Regions from separate parts of the Homo sapiens genome. Here all the other regions are linked to region 3. Evidence: fine-mapped expression QTL. A gene starts in region 3. Each other region holds a variant in brackets. All regions are shown on one strand. Distances are between the middles of the regions.

Evidence for each region. PIP is the estimated chance that this variant, and not a neighbour inherited with it, causes the effect. A credible set is the group of variants that fine-mapping cannot tell apart.
Region 1: its variant is the best candidate, but not a certain one, in a credible set for the expression of PTPN20 in blood mononuclear cells (TOPMed, PIP 0.75).
Region 2: its variant is the best candidate, but not a certain one, in a credible set for the expression of PTPN20 in testis (GTEx, PIP 0.51).
Region 4: its variant is the best candidate, but not a certain one, in a credible set for the expression of PTPN20 in whole blood (TOPMed, PIP 0.82).
Region 5: its variant is the best candidate, but not a certain one, in a credible set for the expression of PTPN20 in kidney cortex (GTEx, PIP 0.73).

What each region holds. Positions count from the first base shown.
Region 1 is chr10:47,004,808-47,008,928 of GRCh38, forward strand. No RefSeq gene overlaps it. Among named protein-coding and RNA genes, the nearest start is that of PTPN20, 95 kb to the left of the region's middle. The variant C/T (reference allele first, on the strand shown) is at 2,458.
Region 2 is chr10:47,574,869-47,578,989 of GRCh38, forward strand. It overlaps a transcript of ANXA8 not described here. Among named protein-coding and RNA genes, the nearest start is that of LINC02675, 43 kb to the right of the region's middle. The variant G/A (reference allele first, on the strand shown) is at 2,267.
Region 3 is chr10:46,909,489-46,913,609 of GRCh38, forward strand. It overlaps PTPN20 (protein tyrosine phosphatase non-receptor type 20), which reads left to right and starts at 1,940. Exons shown (of 11, transcript NM_001042357.5): 1 at 1,940-2,013.
Region 4 is chr10:47,096,012-47,100,132 of GRCh38, forward strand. No RefSeq gene overlaps it. Among named protein-coding and RNA genes, the nearest start is that of PTPN20, 190 kb to the left of the region's middle. The variant T/C (reference allele first, on the strand shown) is at 2,440.
Region 5 is chr10:46,389,850-46,393,970 of GRCh38, forward strand. ANXA8L1 (annexin A8 like 1) reads left to right here. Exons shown (of 12, transcript NM_001098845.3): 12 at 1,022-1,929. The coding sequence ends at 1,081. Among named protein-coding and RNA genes, the nearest start is that of LINC00842, 6.5 kb to the right of the region's middle. The variant G/A (reference allele first, on the strand shown) is at 2,044.

The DNA.
Region 1 (4,121 bases), 95 kb after region 3:
ACAAACAAAGTGAGATGGAGGCCAAGGGCAGAGCACTGAGGAACTTCAACATTCACTTCAACCCTGATTGCCCTCCAGGGCCTGGCCTAAGAACTATCTCTTCTATGAAGCCTTCTAACACTCATCTCTCCCTCTGCTGATTCCTTCAGCAATGCTTCTCAAACTCTGGTGAAGGACCCGTTTTATTTACCAACTGATAGACCTGAACACAGCCTAAAGATCCAACAGATATTTACTAGGAGGTGTGGTGGGGCTAAGCTGAGGATGGCGTCTGAAACTGGATGGGCATTGCTCACTTTCTTTTTTTTTTTTTTAATTTCATTATTATTATACTTTATGTTTTAGGGTACATGTGCACAATGTGCAGGTTAGTTACATATGTATACATGTGCCATGCTGGTGTGCTGCACCCATTAACTCGTCATTTAGCATTAGGTATATCTCCTAATGCTATCCCTCCCCCCTCCCCCCACCCCACAACAGTCCCCAGAGTGTGATGTTCCCCTTCCTGTGTCCATGTGTTCTCATTGTTCAATTCCCACCTATGAGTGAGAACATGCGGTGTTTGGTTTTTTGTCCTTGCGATAGTTTACTGAGAATGATGATTTCCAATTTCATCCATGTCCCTACAAAGGACATGAACTCATCATTTTTTATGGCCGCATACTATCCCATGGTGTATATGTGCCACATTTTCTTAATCCAGTCTATCATTGTTGGACATTTGGGTTGGTTCCAAGTCTTTGCTATTGTGAATAGTGCTGCAATAAACATACATGTGCATGTGTCTTTATAGCAGCATGATTTATAGTCCTTTGGGTATATACCCAGTAATGGGATGGCTGAGTCAAATGGTATTTCTAGTTCTAGATCCCTGAGGAATCGCCACACTGACTTCCACAATGGTTGAACTAGTTTACAGTCCCACCAACAGTGTAAAAGTGTTCCTATTTCTCCACATCCTCTCCAGCACCTGTTGTTTCCTGACTTTTTAATGATTGCCATTCTAACTGGTGTGAGATGGTATCTCATTGTGGTTTTGATTTGCATTTCTCTGATGGCCAGTGATGGTGAGCATTTTTTCGTATGTTTTTTGGCTGCATAAATGTCTTCTTTTGAGAAGTGTCTGTTCATGTCCTTTGCCCACTTTTTGATGGGGTTGTTTGTTTTTTTCTTGTAAATTTGTTTGAGTTCATTGTAGATTCTGGATATTAGCCCTTTGTCAGATGAGTAGGTTGCAAAAATTTTCTCCCATTTTGTAGGTTGCCTGTTCACTCTGATGGTAGTTTCTTTTGCTCTGCAGAAGCTCTTTAGTTTAATTAGATCCTATTTGTCAATTTTGGCTTTTGTTGCCATTGCTTTTGGTGTTTTAGACATGAAGTCCTTGCCCATGCCTATGTCCTGAATGGTAATGCCTAGGTTTTCTTCTAGGGTTTTTATGGTTTTAGGTCTAATGTTTAAGTCTTTAATCCATCTTGAATTAATTTTTGTATAAGGTGTAAGGAAGGGATCCAGTTTCAGCTTTCCACATATGGCTAGCCAGTTTTCCCAACACCATTTATTAAATAGGGAATCCTTTCCCCATTGCTTGTTTTTCTCAGGTTTGTCAAAGATCAGATAGTTGTAGATATGTGGCGTTATTTCTGAGGGCTCTGTTCTGTTCCATTGATCTATATCTCTGTTTTGGTACCAGTACCATGCTGTTTTGGTTACTGTAGCCTTGTAGCATAGTTTGAAGTCAGGTAGCGTGATGCCTCCAGCTTTGTTCTTTTGGCTTAGGATTGACTTGGCGATGCGGGCTCTTTTTTGGTTCCATATGAACTTTAAAGTAGTTTTTTCCAATTCTGTGAAGAAAGTCATTGGTAGCTTGATGGGGATGGCATTGAATCTATAAATTACCTTGGGCAGTATGGCCATTTTCACGATATTGATTCTTCCTACCCATGAGCATGGAATGTTCTTCCATTTCTTTGTATCCCTTTAATTTCACCTTCAAAGTGGAAAAGTGCGAGGAGTACATGGTAGGGCCTGAAGGGGTTAGAGCAGTGTAGCTCTTATCTGCTCTAAAAGGTGACCAGCCAGGGCTCCTTTCCAGAACAGAGTCACACTGAGGAGAAACCTTAGAATCAAAGTTGAGGAGAGAATGGAGAGAATGGGATAAAGAAAAGAGAAGATCCTATAAAAGTGATTGAGGAGAATAGAGCCAGAAAACCTCAGAAAGCAAGCTCAGTGAACTTATAAGAGCTGTCTGTCCAAGTCAAGTTTAGTTCAGGAAATCCAAATTCACATGGAAACAAGCACTAGAAAATATTATGATCAAATCCCGTACAAGTTACCATAAGAAAAAAAAAAGACTGAGGAGCTGAATAGCATCCCTTACAAACAATGAAGGTACACCAGAAAGATACACTCAAAACACAGTTCTCAATGGCAAGCAGCTCGGGAAGTCACAGAAAA[C/T]GATATCCTACTATTTCAAAATGAGCTTAAAGACAATAGGAGAATTGCATAAAACAGGATGGAATAACAAAAATCAGAACTAGAAAAATTTAAAGCAGTATGAAAATCAAGAAAGAGTTAGAAACAAAAATTAGAAATAAAATCTATAAACTAGAAGGAACACAAAAAAATTGATAACTGATGCTTTACAATAAATAGAAAGCTTAAGAGGAATAATTTCAAAACAAAATGGAGAAAGAAAACAGGATTTAAGAGCATAAGAAGGATCAATGATAGGTAAAGAAGACTAGTAGATAGATAACAGAAAGTTTAAAGAAGAAAAACCAAAGCAAGGGTTCAGAACAAATTCACTAATTCAAGAAATATTTAGAGTAATAATTAAAGAAAATTTTCCTGAAATAATTGTTTTTAAAATTATATGTTGAAGTATCATAGTACATACCTGAAACCATCAAATGAGTATGACCAATACCAAGGTTTAATAAATTTTAAGTAAAATTGCTGCAGTTTGAAGAAAGAAAATGGGGAGGGGGGAGGATTTACGCAAAAGAATATGAGGAAAAGAAAATTAGATGATTATCAGATTTTTAAGAGTAATGCTTTAATACAAAAGAAGATGGAATAATAAGATGTCCAAGGAAAGATTTTTATGAGCCAATATGTTATGTCTAGAAAAACTGACCTTGATGCACAGGGTGAAAATTGAAATCAACATGCAAGAGCTCAGAAAATATTGTTCCCAAGAGCCATTCCTCAATAGATGCAGAAAAAAAATTCGAATCAAATTTGATATCCATTCTATATTTTAAAAATAAAAAATTTTAGTAAACTTGGAATAGAAGGGAATTACCTTAATCTGCTAGGGCATAGCTACAGCAAACTTACAACAGAAGCACATTTTATGGTAAAACACTGTTTCTCTCCTATAAGTTAAGTACTGTTTTGGACTGGTCTGAAGAATGGATTGGAATGCAACTGGGGAAACTGAGTCCATCACACAGCCAGGCTTGGAAATAATAACCCCAGGGAAACAACTAAACGTCCCTTTATGCAAAAGAACCTATCTTCCTCACTGGTAACACTGCCAGAATTCTTTTTCAGATACGGAGGGGGGGTGGATTTGGTTAATTATACTCCATAGAGCACCTTTAAAATTCTGTCAAGCCTTTCTCCTCAGGATCACCACTGAGATGTTAGCGATCAGAACCATCTCTCTTACAAATCAGATGTATAGAAGGCATTTCACAGTCCAAACTGAAATATGTATGTTCACAGTATTTCATTCTCCAAGCATATACATCTCCAGCAGAGCACAAGACTCTACGGTTGCTGAAGGGCTTATTTACCAGTAATTCTGGCTGCATGAAGCAGAAAATGAGGTAAACATTAAAGCGAGTAGCAACAAAGGACTGAATCAAAGAGGCTGGCTTTCCAAGAGCCTGAGCTTTACTGAATGGCCTTACAAAACTAAATGGTGCCTGGGTCCTTTCGGTACTTCCCGAGCTGCTTGCCGTTGAGAACTGGGGCATGCTGGGGCCTCACCAGGATGTCTGGGCTGGCATACCTGTGGGGTCAACTTATTTCCATGAGAGTTCTTATGGCCTCTAGGGAAGACAATGACAGGGCCTCTGGCACCGACTGCCACCCCCAGAGCTAGGTGGCAT
Region 2 (4,121 bases), 670 kb after region 3:
CCTAACACTTCAATTTGCTACGATCTGAGGAACTGAAAGCTAAGGCCTAAAATTTTATATGTGCTAAGTGTCGAATAATAGGTCAAAGCTGCATTCTTCCACAAGTAAAGATAATATGGGGCTTAACACAATTGCTTTAGCAATGTGATTTTCTCCCCTTTTTCTCTACTTGGTAAGGAGGGCTTATACCCCCACTAAGCAGGCACATGCCTGTAATCCCAGCTACTCAGGAGGCTGAGGCAGGAGAATCGCTTGAACCTGAGAGGCAGAGGTTGCATTGAGCTGAGATTGTGCCATTGCACTCCAGCCTGGGCAACAAGAGTGAAACTCAAAAAAAAAAAAAAAAAAAAGAAAGAAAGCAAGCAAGAAAGAAAGAAGGAAGGAAGGAAAGAAAGAGAGAGAAAGAAAGAAAAGTAAATCTGTGGATATTGTACAAAAGATTGTTTTATGATTTTTTAATTTTTTAACATAACTTTTATTGACTTGTATTTGTATTTTTATCAAACATACTTCATTTGTTTATTTATTTATTTTGAGATGAAATCTCACTCTGTCACCCAGGCTGGAGTGCAGTGGTGGGATCTTGGCTCACTGCAACCCCCGCCTTCCAGGTTCAAGCAATTCTCCTGCCTCAGCCTCCCACGTAACTGGGATTACAGGCATGAGCTACCATGCCCAACTAATTTTTTTATTATTAGTAGAGATGGAGTTTCACCATGTTGGCCAGGCTGGTCTCAAACTCCTGACCTCAGGTGCTCCACCTGCCTCAGCCTCCCAAAGTGTTAGTATTATAGGCATGAGCCACCGCACCCAGCCTCAAACATACTTTAGACAATTTTTCACCTCAGCACTATTGACATTTTAGGCTATGTAATTCTTTGTTATGGGGGCTCTCTCTGCCTTGTAGGATGTTTAGTAATATCCCTGGCCTCTACATATTAGATGTCAGGAAGACCCCTCAGTTATAACAATGACAAATATATTCAGATTGCCAAATGTCCCCTGTGGAGCAAATTCATCCCTTGTTGTGAACTGTGATCCAGAGAGCCAAATAGTGATACAAGGTTTATTGTTCACAATAGCTCGTCCCCTCCAATCCAGACATCTGCCTCACCATATTCCACTCCCCAGAGGCAACCACTTTCAACAATCTTAAATGTTTCATTTTTATTCTATTTAAAGCCTTTGCTCATTTTTAAATTGGGTTTTGTCCACATTATTGAGTGGTAAGAGTTCTTTATATACTCCACAGCCAGTTGTGGTAGTATAGGCCTATGGTCCCAGCTACTCAGAAGGCTGAGGCAGGAGGATAACTTGAGCCCAGAAGGTCAACACTAGTCTAGGCAACATAGCATGACCCTGTCTCTAAATGAGTCTTTGAAGTATATATATTCTAGGTAATTGACCTTTATCATGTATATAATTTGTAAATATTTCCTCTCAATCTATTAGTTGTCATTGCGCTTTCTTGATAGTCTCCTTTTTAATCTTGAGAAAGCATAATTTATTTTTCCTCTGGTTGGTGTGCTTTAGGTTGTATGTAAGAAACCATTGCCTAATCCATAGTCATGCAGATACATCCCTATCTTTTTTTTTTTTTTTTTTTGAGATGGTCTCGCTCTGTCGTCCAGATTGGAGTGCAGTGGTGTGATCTCATGGCTCATTGATAACTGCAGCCTCTACCTCCTAGGCTCAAGCAATCCTCCCCCTTCAGCCTCCCAAGTAGCTGGGACTATAGCACCAGCTATAGTCAGCCTCCCAGGTAGCTGGGAATATGGCACCAGGACTATAGCACATACCACCACTAAGCACAGCTAATTTCTGTATTTTTTGGAGAGACAAGGTCTCACCATGTTGCCCAGGCCAGTCTTGAACTCCCAGGCTCAAACAATCCTCCCACCTCAGCCTCCCAAAGTGCAGGATTACAGGTGTGAGCCACTGTGCCTGGCCTAGAGAGATTTTTTTAAGAAATAGTGACCAAAAATATCCCACATTTGATGGGAATTGTGAATCTACACATTGAAGATGCTCAACAAATTCAAAGCAGGATAAACTCAAAGAGATCCACACTGACACACATTATAATCAAATTGTAGAAAGCTAAAGACAGAAAAGCAGCAAGAGATAAGTGATTCATCCTGTACAAGGGATCTTCAGTAAGACTAACAGTTGCTTATCAGAAATCACGGAGTATAGAAGGCAGTGGTGGTGTGCTGGGCATGGTGGCATGTACCTGTAGTCCCAGCTGACTGAGGCTGAGACAGGA[G/A]AATTGCTTGAGCCTGGGAGGTGGAAGTTGCAGTGAGCTGAGATGGCGCCATTGCACTCCAGCCTGGGCGACAGAGCAAGACTCCATCTCAAAAAAAAAAAAAAAAAAACAGGGTTGGGGAAGCTCAGCATGGTGGCTCATGCCTGTAACTTCAGCACTTTTGGAGACTGAAGTGGGATCACCTGAGGCCAGGAGTCCACAACCAGCCTGGGCGACATAAGGAGACCCCATCTCTACAAAATAAAAATAATTAGCCAGACAAGGTGGCTCTGGCCTGTGGTCCTAGCTACTCAGGAGGCTGAGACAGGAGGATTGCTTGCAGCCAGCAGTTTAAGACTAGCCTGGACAACATAGTGAGACCCCGTCTCTACAAAATATAAATTAAAAAAATTAGCTGGGCATGGTGGTGTGCATCTGTAGTTCCAACTACTCATGAGGCTGAGACAGGAGGATCGTTTGAGACCAGAAGTTGGAGGTTACGGTGAGGTATGATCATACCACTGCACTCCAGCCTGGTTGACAGAGCAAGAACCTGTCACTAAAAAAATAATAAATGAATAAAAATATAAGAATGCTTGGCCTGGTCTGGGCGTGGTGGCTCACGCCTGTAATCCCAGCACTTTGGGAGGCCGAGGCGGGTGGATCACCTGAGGTCGGGAGTTTGAGACCAGCCTGGCCAACATGGAGAAACCCTGTCTCTACTAAAAAAATACAAAATTAGCCAGGCATGGTGGCACATGCCTGTAATCCCAGCTACTCGGGAGGCTGAGGCAGGAGAATTGCTTGAACCTGGGAGGCAGAGGTTGCAGTAAGCCGAGGTCACACCCGATTGCACTCCAGCCTGGGCAAAAAGAGGGAAACTCCACCTCAAAAAAAAAAAAAAAAGAAAAAGAATGCTTGGCTGGGCACAGTGGCTCATGCCTGTAATCCCTGCACTTTGGGAGGCCGAGGCAGGTGGATCACCTGAGGTCAGGAGTTCGAGACCAGCCTGGCCAATATGGTGAAACCCCATCTCTACTAAAAATACAAAAATTTGCTGTGTGTGATGGCACGTGCCTGTAATCCCAGCTACTTGGGAGGCTCAGGCAGGAGAATCACTTGAACCCAGAAGGCAGAGTTTGCAGTGAGCAGAGATTGTGCCACTGCACTGCAGCCTGGGCAACAGAGCAAGACTCGGGCTAAAAAAAAAAGCTGAAGTGAGTCCTTCAGGCTAAAATGAAAAGATACAAGATAATAACTCAGAGCTATATGAAAAAATAAAAATCACTGGTAAAGGCAACTATATAGCTAAATATAAAAGCTAGTATTATTGTATTTTGGGTATGTTATTCCTCTTTCTCCTTTATGATTTAAAAACATGCATGAAATAATATGCATCTATGTTAATAGGAACTAATTGTTTAAAGACATAATTTGTAACAATATAGCTAGGGGACAGAGAAAGGAGCAGAGTTAATGTATGCTATTGAAGCTGAGTTGGTATCAGTCTGAACTAGACTTAGAACTCAGCATGTTAACTGAAATCTTCATAGTATCCACTAAAAACAAAACTTTAAAAATATACAGAAAAGGAACTAAGAAAGGATCAAAATATTACAGGATAAATCATTAACCAAACACAAAAGAAGGTACTGAGGAGCAAAACACTTTATGTAGAAACTAAACAGCAGGATGACATAAGTAAGTTCTTTGGTGTGTGGGTTTTTCTGTTTTTCTTTTTTGGGGTTTCTTTGAGACAGAGTCTTGCTCTGTAACTCAGGCTGGAGTGCAGTGTTTCATTCTCAGCTCACTGCAGCCTTTGCCTCCCAGGTTCAAGTGATTCTCAGCCTCCTGAGTAGCTGGGATTGCAGGCGCC
Region 3 (4,121 bases):
GGGTTTAAAGAGGCCTCCAAAGAAGGGTAGTAAACTGTGATGGGCCCTAAACTTTATAGTTCTTCGAATTTTTCACAGGTAAAAGGACAGAAAGCCAAGAAGAGCCTTCTGGGTCACTGGCTTCTGGGAATATTGTGTGGTCAAGCAGGAAGTCTGGGGGAGATGGAATGACACCTCAGGGTCCACTCTTACCAACTGTTCATTTAGCCTCCATGCAAGGATTTCCTGGTGATGTGAATGGGGGTTATTCCCTCTGTGTGTCTTGGAGCAGCCATGCTGCTCATGTTTGTGAAATGATGACCAGTGCAGAATCTTGATGTTAGGCACTATGAAGAAACATTAGACATGGGGTCCATCTTTAAAGGGGAATCTTACCCTGGTGATATAGTTTGGATATTTGTCCCATCTAAATCTAATGTTGGGCTGGGTGCGTTGGCTCATGCCTGTAATCCCAGCACTTTGGGAGGCTGAGGCGGGCGGATCACCTGAGGTCAGGTGTTCAAGACCAGCCTGGCCAACACAGTGAAACCTCGTCTCTACTAAAAATACAAAAATTAGCCAGGCATGGTGGCATGCTCCTGTAGTCCCAGCTACTGGGGAGGCTGAGGCAGGAGAATCACTTGAACTGGGGAGGTGGAGATTACAGTGAGCTGAGATCACGCCACTGCACTCCAGCCTGGGCGACAGAGCGAGACTCCATCTCAAAATAAATAAATAAATAAATAAAATCTAGTGTTGAAATTTGATCCCCAATGTTGGAGGTGGGGCCTGGTGGGAAGTGTCTGGGTCATGTGGGTAGATCCTTTATGAATGACTTGGTGCTAGTCTCATGGAACTGAGTGAGTTCTTAGTCTTTGTTTTCATGAGAACTGGTCATGGAAAAGAGCCTGGCACCTCCCACCTCTCTCTCTTCCTCTGTCTTGCACACATTGGCTCTCCTTTGTCTTCTGCCATGAGTGGAAGCTTCCTGAGGCCCTCATCAAAAGCGGGTGGTGGTGCCATGTTTCTTTTACAGCCTGTGAAACTGTGAAACTAACAAACCTCTTTTCTTTATAAATTACCCAGCCTCAGGTATTGCTTTATAGCAACACAAACAAACTAAGACATATGGCAATGGCGTGGGTTGCTTGCAGGGTACCTTGGCTGCTACAGAAAGAAAAAGTCTCTGTAGAGACTCACTGTCAGTGACTCACGGAGCAGAAGGCTGGCCTCAGAGCCTGGACAGAGGGTAGCTGTCACTGCTTAACTGCAGTTCAGCTCAAGCATATGGCTCTCTGTGGGACCAGCACTGAAGGCTGGGGGATAAGTGAGGCAGGTCTTGTCACACCTTCAGGGTATCTGGATTCACCAAAGTGGCTCAGGTCAGGACCAATGAATAGAGGTTTGTTCGTCAAGATAAAAAGATTCTGGCTTCCTGTTTTCAGGCAATGCCAACGATTGAATTCCCTCTACATTGACCACCCTTGCTGAAGTTGTCTTAATTGACCTAGCAGCCAACTGACCTCATATTCTGGCACAGGCTCTGACTCCTTTTGCCTATCTGCCCTGCTCTGATACTACAAAGAGACCCCCCCACCCCAGCCCTCTGGGGCCTCATTAGGGGCTTAGAGGGCAGGCGTGGGTCAGGCGAGCATTCCTGGAGAACACAGTCCTCAGTGGTTCAGGATATGAGCATAGCTCAGAGAGCTGTTGACATTATCAGCCTGGCCTGGGAGAGGGGGACCCGCACAGGGTGGTGCACAGGGCCCGCAGGGAATTTACAGCGGCGTCCGCGGCGATGGGCTCTCAGTGCCTTGGAAGACCGGTAGAGGCAGGTTCTGTCTCTCCCGGCCTGGCAAGCAGAGGGCCGCGGCGCAGGGCAGAGTGCCGCGGCGCAGGGCAAAGCTCCAGTGCGCAGGCTCGCGGGCGCAGGTGGGATTGGATAGCGACGAAGGCCGGCAGGCTAGGCGTGGACCCAACTGGCGAGGCTGCTGGGGTTGCAGCGGGACAGTTGGGGCGGCCCCGCAGGCCCAGGTGAGGAAAGGTGGCTGGGGGCCAGGTGGGCAGGGGGCGTGCGGGAGGCCGCTGCGCCGGGCTGTGGGAGGGCGGGCGTGAAGAAGGAAGATGCCGTTGACGTGCAGGGGTCACAAGGCGTGGGTTGTGGCCCTGGCCCGGGAGACTGCCCGGGTGGGCCTGAGCTGTGAAGTAGTGTCGCTGCAGCCAGAGGGCAGGACGTGATTCTGGCCGTGTGATGCCAGCTGCACTGTGACGCGTGTTGGGGCGCCTATGCGAGACGGGACCGGGACAGGAACCCTGTGGCTCTGTGGTAGGGGAATGCCACCAACTCCCTGAGGAGCAGCCGTGTGGTATGATTGGTAAGAAGCCATCATCAGGCGCTGAGACAGCCCAGAACTTCCCAATGACTCAAGGGCGGGTGGAGGTCGAGGGACCTAGAAAGAAAGAACATGAATTCATCAATCCATTCAGCAGCTATTTTGAACGCCTCCTGTGTGCCAGATGCTGTTCTAGAAGCTCAGAATATCTATGAACGCGATAGGCAATGCCCCCATATGCCAAGGCCCTCATATGCTAGCCTTGACTCAAGGAAAACTGTAGGATGGGGTAGGTTTCATTTTTGGAAGTTGTGGAATCAGTACTTATGTTTTGAATGTGTTAGGTTTGAGATGCCCAGTAGGTTTTTCCCAATAGAAGACATAAGCATAGCTGGGAAGAATTTTGCAGAGGACTCTGACCACCTACCACCTACAGGTGCCATGAATATTTAGCACATTTGATTTTTCACATTACCTATTCACCTTCTCTCCATTTATCAGTCACCTGGTAGTTTTTTTTAGTATGGTGAAATATACACACATAAATTATCTAGTAGATATTTGGGTTGAGATATCAAATGTGCTTTTTAGAAATTTAAATCTGAAGTTCTGGAGGATGTCGGGCTAGAGTTAACCTTTGGAATCGGCATCATATACTGTACATAGTATTTAAAATATATGGGACTGGTGAAGACATCTAGTTTAATAGTGTACACAAAGAAGAGGAGGCGAAGCCAAAAAAGGGAGGGAGGTAGTGGTCAACCATGTTGAATGTTACCGTATAAGATGACTTTGGTAATTAGGAGGATTTTAATCATTTTGACAAGAACAACTTTAATGGGGAAGAGGGGCCTTAAGGTTGGGTAGAGTTTTTTTCAAGATAGAAGAAAGCAGAATGTTTATATGGCAATGTGATTAAACTCGTAGAAAGGAAAAACTGCTGCAGATGAAAGAGGGGAACATTGTAAAGGGTAGTTGTTGAATACCTGAGAAAGGAGAAGACCCTAAGCAGGTGAGTAGTTGGTTTTGAAATGAGCAGGGACACTTACTCTGTTGTAACTAGAGGGGAAGCTGAGATAACAGGTGCAGATACAGTGGGTGGTGGGAAAAGAGTCTATTGGTATAGGCATCCATCAGCTTAGAGGGAGGGCAGCGGGGGAGAGGAAAGGTGTGGGAACTTGGAGGAGAGATATGTGACAGAGTCCTAGAGAGGGTGAAAGTGAGCGTACTAGAGAAATAGAGTTGGATTCCCAGGCAGTGCTCAGGGCCCATTTGAGACGTGTAGTCTTACATTTAAAGTGATATAAACCAGTGTGGTTGTTTCATGTTCAACTTTGGAAGGGTGTTGTGAGGATTAAAGAAGGTAATGCATGAAAAACATTTAATAGAGTGTCAGGCGTTTAATGAATGTTAACGCTTTTTATTTGAGCCCTCGTTTTGTTTTTCTTTTCTGTTTATACATATGTGACTGAGGATGGCTGGCAATTACCACTTGACAGGCTGTTCTGGGGCATGTTCTCCCATCACAGAGAACTGCAGTTTGCAGCTACTCAGAAGTCTGGTTCCTGTTGTGTTTACATGTACACAGCTTGATAATTGAAGATGTTTGCTTTTTAGAGCCATTGTCCTGGACTGTTTGGGCTGGGGTTTGTCACAGTGACAGTCCTTAAGTTTTTGTGAAAATCTTTTATGACTGCATTTCATATTGGATCTGATGTACTGGTAATCTACAGAATCTACAAATCTAAGATTGGCAGGAAAATTTTCAGTTTAATAGATTTTCATTTCTCCCTGACCACTTGAGCTGTT
Region 4 (4,121 bases), 190 kb after region 3:
ATCTGTAAAGTGGACCAATCAGCAATCTGTAAAATGGACCAATCACTAGGACGTGGGTGGGGACAAATAAGGGAATAAAAGCTGTACCCGCCCCACTCCCACACCAGCCAGCAGCGGTAAGCTGCTAGGATTGTTTCTTACGCTGTGGGAGCTTTGTTGTTTAGTTCCTCACGATATATTTTGCTGCTGCTTACCGTTTGGGTCCATGCCACCTTTAAGAGCTGTAACACTTGGCTTAGGAGCTGTAACACTCACTGCGAAGGTCCCCGGTTTTTTTTTTTTCTTTTGAGACAAGATCTTACTCTGCCACCCAGGCTGGAGTGCACTGGTGCAATATTGGCTCACTGTGATTTTCGCTTCTCCCGTTCAAGCTATTTGCTGACGTCAGCCTCCTGCGTAGCTGGGATTACAAGTGTGGTGTGCGCCACGATGCTGGGCTAATTTTTGTATTGTTAGTAGAGACGAGGTGTCACTGTGTTGGCCAGGCTGGTCTCAAAACTCTGGACCTCAACTGATCTTACCACCTTGGCCTCCCGAAGTGCTGGTGCTGGGATTACAGGCAGAAACTACTGTGCCTGGCTAAAACATCAATGCACTCAACAAGTATGATTAAAAGCTCAAATGTCTTATAAATATGGTTTAGAAGGCAAGTGATCTCTCTGCTATAAAGAAAAATGAAAAGGTAATCAGATTCTCCAGACAAAACAAAAAACTGTAAAAGTTATGGTACAAACACACAACAAGCTAATCTTGGTATAATCTTGTGTAATCAATAGCATTTAAGAAGGGAATAGGTTTGACTTTAAACTTTGGAATACTATCTATAGAACAGCAAACATTCACCGACCTAGGAAAATAAGCTTATTTTTAAGCACGTTTCTCTAATAAAAATGACTAATTATACCATAGGAAATTGCCATAATTTTCATATGATTCAACTTAACACATCATCACACTAACAAAAATGCTAGTCATTTGTGTTTGATTTTCAGAATCAACATACAAATCAATCACGAAAGATGTATTTGCAGAGCAAGGCATAAGTGATAAAACTTTTCAAAATCTAAAAGGCATGCTGTGTTTAGGAGAGGCACAAAGAAGTTCAGGGGCACCGAATTACATAGTGAGGAATCACAAGATACTGATTATATTTATTTTATGGAGCAAGAAACATTGTGGATATTATAAGAGAAAACAAATGGGTAAATACACTAATATTGAGAACTAAGACTTTCATTATAAGGAAAAGAAGGTACAAGTAAAAACTAAAAGGAAAAACCCTATTTTATTAAATTTGAATTAGAAATATCACTATAAATTCATGATTTTAGGTATATCCCTTTCACTCATCCATCCACACCTCCAAGTTCTGCCTACCAAAAAGACAAATAACAGCAGCAATGAGTCTATCTAGTAACCCAAATCTTGGTTTCCAAATACCATTTTTCACTGAAATGAGTCAGATATTCTTGGAGAAATCGATAATTATAGGCCTGGAGAAAGAAAATAAGTCTGGAGCACTTTGTTATGTCAGAAAGTAAGAAAGTGCTTGAATAATACTGGAAATACGTCAAAAGAATACAGAAGCCAGCCTTAAGGCAGTCCCATTGACCATATTTCAGATAATTTATGTATCAAGAAGTGTAACAATGAAAAAATATATGTGTGAATCTGTAGTAATAAAAGATTTTGCTTATATCTACAAAAATAGACATGGATAGTAGTTCCATGCAATTGTTCCAAACTGGAAATAATCCCAATGTCATCAACAATAGAATGGATAAATAATTGAGACACACTCATATAATGAGTGCCGAATAGCCTTGCTGTCACCTTTTGCATTAGCCCATAGTTCTCTCCCAGGGGTAGCTTCTTGCAAAACCAGGGAGAAGTCACCCCCACGTTAGCTAGCAACCATCCCCACCTCTCCTGCTGAGTGCTCCTGGATGCTCTGGCGAATGCATCTCTGCCCTCCACCAGCATTGATGGACCAGACAAAAGAATAATAGATTATACATATCAGCTAGGTCTGTGGTTCTTAATTCTTGCCCTGTATTAGAATCACACTAACATCCAAGCCTTACCTCCAAGACTCTGATTCAACATTTAAAAATTACCCCCAAAGGAGTCTAACGTTCAGCCAGAATGAACTAGGAAAAAATGTGACAAAGTCTGAGATAACAGAGTTCAATTTGTGCAGTCTCGATAGACTGGCTATTGAGTGTGGCTATAGACTGTGGTTAAATGTGGCACTGTTTAACCCTGGACATGGCGGAGAGGAAATAATAACCAGGACAATGTGGAGTCCAAAATACCTTTCACCAATTCCAGTTAAACTTTCCACAATAACATTGATTAATGTTGTGTGTTCAATGACAATATCAATAATAGAGTCTATCAATCACTCTATTGATTAATATAATTCTACTGATAATAGAA[T/C]CAATAACTATTCATTGATTGCTTGCAATGTGTCGGCCACTGTTTAAATATTTGACTTGTATTTTCTCCTTGTGTCAAATCCAGTTTCAAATGAAGCCCCCTCAGCAATAGGTTAACATTTGTACTAGGTTGAATTATTGGAACTTATTGCCATTTGACCATTTTTGTCCTGCTAAACGGTACTTTCACATGGTTCAATCTGATCCCACATTGCATGGCAGTACCAGCCTTAGCAGTGCCCAGAAGCTCACGGGAGCTGAGAAAGAGGCCGCGTGGTCAGAGGCAGGGAGAGGGGGCTCAGACCCAACCTGCAACACTAGAGCACCGTCTGCTAAACAGGAACATGGGGACTTTGGATCCTCATCCCCTAAAGTCGTTTTCAGGCCCCTGAACTACACCAACAGGAGGTGTGCAGGTTCCTAAAAGAAGAAGGGGACTCCCCATTTCAGAAGAGCCCATGGAGAGGTGCCAGGGATCACAAAGACCATGGACGAGGGGGACCCCACCTTGCCATTTAACCTGGAATTGACTCCGGTGCCAGAGAAGGGATTCGAATTTCCGATAAGCAGGATTTGATCATCGCTATGGACAGCAGTGGTTCAGAAGTTTTCCTGAGAGTTTTTGTTGGGGTTGTCCTGTCCCTTCCCTGTCCTTTATATGGAGGGTGCTGGGTGAGATGACTTGTCCTTAGGTGTATGGCTCACAAGGCCACCAGGTGAGCTGGAGAAGATGGCCACGTGATACCTGAGGGAGGGAGCCGCCCATCATGCAGATCAGGCCTTTGGGTTGGCTGTGGCAGCTGATGGCACTTGGGGATGGTGTCCCTGGAGGATGTGAGGCGTGTGTCCGGTGGGTAGGAACAGCCTGTGTGAACGTCGGGCAGCTGAAAAAGTGGAGGCGGCAGAGGCTGCTCTGTCAGTGCCTGCCTCTTGCTTCCTAACAGCACCCCTATTTTTATCTGGGACAGTGATGTGCCCAGCTGAGAGACTACATTTTCTGACCTTCACTGCAGCCAGGAGTAGTAAAGAAGATGGACGCATGAACCACTGCGAGGGGCTCTGTGGATGCTTTTTGCTGTGGAAAGTAGACTGTTGTGTCCTCCCCTTTCCTCCTTCCTGGCACCAGTGAGGTGATCCAAGGCCCTGTTTTCAGGCCACCATGGCTCTGAAAGCCTTTCGCAAGTGTATGTGTGGACCCTCTTCTCATGAGCACGTTCTCTCTCAGGAGATGCCCATTGTCCTGAAGTGCCTAGGATCTCCTGCAGGCCCACCCCTGGGCTTCCCTCCACACATCGTCTTCGTCTTATCTAAATCCTGGTTGGGTGCTGCATGAGGCTCAAGCTCGGGAGCCCTTCAGATGGGCCCAAAATGACAAAGGAGCACATTTGGTAACAGCAAGGTAGCAGGCTAGAGTCCAGCATCCTTGCCCCAGCACAGAAGTCCTTTCCCTCCCTGCCCACAGTATTTGGGACCATCACCCCCAAGACTCTAGGTTGTAAGAGAGAACATTTTACCACTAAAGACCAAGACCCAGACCCTGGCTGAGTCAGACCTTCCATCTGAGAGAAGGGCAGAGCCAGTTGCTGAACATGTAAGATGTTTCTCCAGCCGTGATGCTGGGAGCTGAGAGAAACACTTTCCTAGGCAATGTGGTAACAAAGAGAGCCAGAAACCTCCATTTCC
Region 5 (4,121 bases), 520 kb before region 3:
CCAGCCTGGGTGACAGAGTGAGACCGTGTCTAGAAAGGAAAAAGTTAAAAAAATTTCATTGTAGTTTGAAACCCGTAATGAGATTTCAGGCTCAAAGCAGGCAAATTTTACTAAATGGTGAAAAGTAGACAATAACCATGAGACCTAAACTGGTCCAGAGTGTGGAAAGTGGGTCTAGCCCCAGTCTACCCCTTACTCACCATGCCGTTGTGAATGAATTCACTCCCCTCTCTTGGCCCCGCTGTCCTCAACTGCATGAAGAAGAATCTGGGTGATCTGACCTGGCCCATTTCCCAGCTCTGTATGCAGACCCCGGACTAGCCAGTCCCATCAGGACCTACCAGTATCTAAGAAACAGGGCTCCTCAGTCATCGGACCACAAGGTCAGTCTCATCAGGAGACAAACACTGTGGACCCGATGTGAGCCAGATGCAGGGCAGACCAGCTCGCCTTCCTCCTGCTGTACCCTCACCACGTCTCAGCAAGATGCACAGCAGCACAGCATTGATCTCATTTCATAGATGAGTCCCACAGAGGTGAAGGGGCTTGCCTCGGCCACACCGTCAGGGTGCGATGGTCCAGGCTCCCTCCACCCCCGGCCCTGCTCCCAGGTGTGTGCTGATGCCTCACTCTCAGCCTTGATTCCCAAGCTGCCACAGCAGGTGTTGAATAATGATGCATCGTGTTGTGTAAATGAATGGCTGGGCACCCTGGCTCCCGAATAGAAGAACCCTGGGACAGCTGACCCCTTCCTTGTTTAGGAGTGGAACTGTCTCTGATTCATTTTCCACATCAATCCTGCATGTAGTTGGTAAGAGAATCAAAAGGAAATGTAAAGGAATAGCCTGAAATTAAAAACCAGGAAAGAGGGGTGATGGCACAACCCCTGCGGCTAGGAACCCTGGAGGGCCGGGCCAGGTGCAGGCCAGGGGCACACCTCTTAGTCATAATAACACAGCCGCCACTGCCGAGCCAGGCACAAACAAACCCCTTCTCACGCTTATGCGCCTCCTACCCACAGGAAGACACCAGCGGCGACTACAAGAACGCCCTGCTGAGCCTGGTGGGCAGCGACCCCTGAGGCACAGAAGAACAAGAGCAAAGACCATGAAGCCAGAGTCTCCAGGACTCCTCACTCAACCTCGGCCATGGACGCAGGTTGGGTGTGAGGGGGGTCCCAGCCTTTCGGTCTTCTATTTCCCTATTTCCAGTGCTTTCCAGCCGGGTTTCTGACCCAGAGGGTGGAACCGGCCTGGACTCCTCTTCCCAACTTCCTCCAGGTCATTTCCCAGTGTGAGCACAATGCCAACCTTAGTGTTTCTCCAGCCAGACAGATGCCTCAGCATGAAGGGCTTGGGGACTTGTGGATCATTCCTTCCTCCCTGCAGGAGCTTCCCAAGCTGGTCACAGAGTCTCCTGGGCACAGGTTATACAGACCCCAGCCCCATTCCCATCTACTGAAACAGGGTCTCCACAAGAGGGGCCAGGGAATATGGGTTTTTAACAAGCGTCTTACAAAACACTTCTCTATCATGCAGCCGGAGAGCTGGCTGGGAGCCCTTTTGTTTTAGAACACACATCCTTCAGCAGCTGAGAAATGAACACGAATCCATCCCAACCGAGATGCCATTAACATTCATCTAAAAATGTTAGGCTCTAAATGGACGAAAAATTCTCTCGCCATCTTAATAACAAAATAAACTACAAATTCCTGACCCAAGGACACTGTGTTATAAGAGGCGTGGGCTCCCCTGGTGGCTGACCAGGTCAGCTGCCCTGGCCTTGCACCCCTCTGCATGCAGCACAGAAGGGTGTGACCATGCCCTCAGCACCACTCTTGTCCCCACTGAACGGCAACTGAGACTGGGTACCTGGAGATTCTGAAGTGCCTTTGCTGTGGTTTTCAAAATAATAAAGATTTGTATTCAACTCAAAGTATCTTTGGATGTTTAGCAGGGACCAGTGTAGGACCAATTTAATTTGTCAGAAACAGAGCTTTGGGGAGCCACGAAGCCTGAGCGCCTCGTGGGCATCTCCCAGTGG[G/A]AACACTGGATGGGCTGTACCTGAGCACCTCGTGGGCATCTCCCAGTGGGAACACTGGATGGGCTGCAGCCACCGCTGCCCTGGGGACAACTCTTGCAAATGAGGGTAGATTCTATTCACCTCCTGATGTGTAGGCTACATCCTTGTATCTCAGGGTTAGAGAGGGATTTAAAGTCAGCTGGTGCTGTTCCGACCTGTGGCCTGACTACCCCCTTGGCATCCACCCAGGGGTGGTCCTTGGTGTGCTTGGGGTGCACTTGGGTACTCAGGGTGTACTGGTGATACTCAGGGTGCAGTTGAGTACTCCGGGTGCACTTGGCTGCCTCCAAAGATGGGACTCACTGCGTCCTTTGACAGCCCAATCTTTTTCCAATGGATGTGACCAGCAAAGTTCTTGTTTTACCTGAACCAAAATCAGCCGCATCAAGCCCACACCTCTGCCATCTAGGGCCACAACACTTATTCCCTCCCAGTAACAACATTTTGGATATCTGAAGAAGGCCCACAAATTCTGCGATGACCTCTGTCAAAGCCCAGTGTCCCCAGTCCCTTCAGTGGTCCCTCCTGGAGCCTGTTTGGGGCCATCACCCCTGAACATGCTCCAGTTTGCAAACTTCCCCTCAAGTGGCCCTGAGGGGTAAGCGTGTGCCCAGGAACCAGCCTGATCAGGGAGATGGGAATAGCGTGGGCTCTGAATTCACTTGGACGGGAGGCAGATTCTGGCTCTGCCCTGCACCAGCTCCATGACTTTGACTGTGTTAGGCTATTCTTGTGTTGCCATAAAGCAATACCTGAGTCTGGGTAATTTATTTAAAAAGGGGGTTTAATTGGCTCACAGTCCTGCAGGCTATATAGGAAGCATGGTGCCGGCATCTGCTCAGCTTCTGGGGAGGCCTCTGGAGGGACCTTACAGTCATGGCAGAAGGTGAAGGGGGAGCCAACATCACGTAGCGAGAGTGGGAGCAAGAGAGGTGGGGGGAGGTGCCACACACTTTTAAACAGCCAGATCCTGTCAGAGCTCAAGATGGTGAGGACAGCATCAGGCCATGAGGGATCTGCCCCCTGACCTAAACACCTCCCACCAGGCCCCACCTCCAACACTGGGGATCACATTTCAACATGAAATTTGGAGGGGATATCCAAACTATATCAGTGACTGAGTCACTTACTCTCTCTCTGAGCCTCAGTTTCCTCACATTTCTATACAGGGTGGGCTCCCAGTTACAACTGCTGCCTTTCGAACCACCCCAGAGCCAGTAGCATAAAATCCTCATGTATAATGTTCACAGATTCTGTGGGTCAGCAGTTCTGGAGGGCACAGCAAGGTGCTTGTCTCTGACCCAACAAGTAAGACGACTCAGTCTCAGTTGGGAAGACCTGAAGGTTGGGGTGACTCTAGGGCAGAGGGGTGCAACCATCTGGATGCCTCTTCACTCACATGTTGGGCCCCTGGTGAGATGGCTGGAAGGCCAGGCTCAACTGGGACTGTCCCCTGCGCTCCTACACGTAGCTTCTCCAGCAAGGTGGCCTCAGGGTAGCAAGTGGTAGGGCTCCACCGTCTCCCAGTGGACAAGAAGGACACCACATTGCCTTCTGTGAGTTAGCGTCAGGAGTCACATGGCATCACTTCCCCGGTGCCCTATCAGTTGAAGACACCACAAGCCACCCCAGCTTCAAGGAAAGGGGACACAGACCCAATCTGTCAATGAGAAGAGTGTCAACGAATCTGGGGGCTGTTTTTAAATCCACCACAAGTGGTGCTCAGAATATTTAACAACTGGTGCAGCACAACCCACTCACCTGAATGGGTGCTGTCTGCAGGGGTGGAGCAGAGCTCGAGTAGCGGCCCCTGCAGGGCCAGGCCTCAACCCTTAGTGCTGGATGGCAGGGTGTCTGTGGGGCCCCAGGGGAGGCTCCTGGGTGTTGGGGATGCAGCAGCTATTCACCAACATGTCTTAGTCTTTTCAGACTGACATACAAAATACCATAAATAGGTGGCTTAAATAACAGACACTTATTTTGCACAGTTCTGGAGGCTGGGAAGTCTAAGATCAATTCAGTTCCTGGGGAGGGCCTCT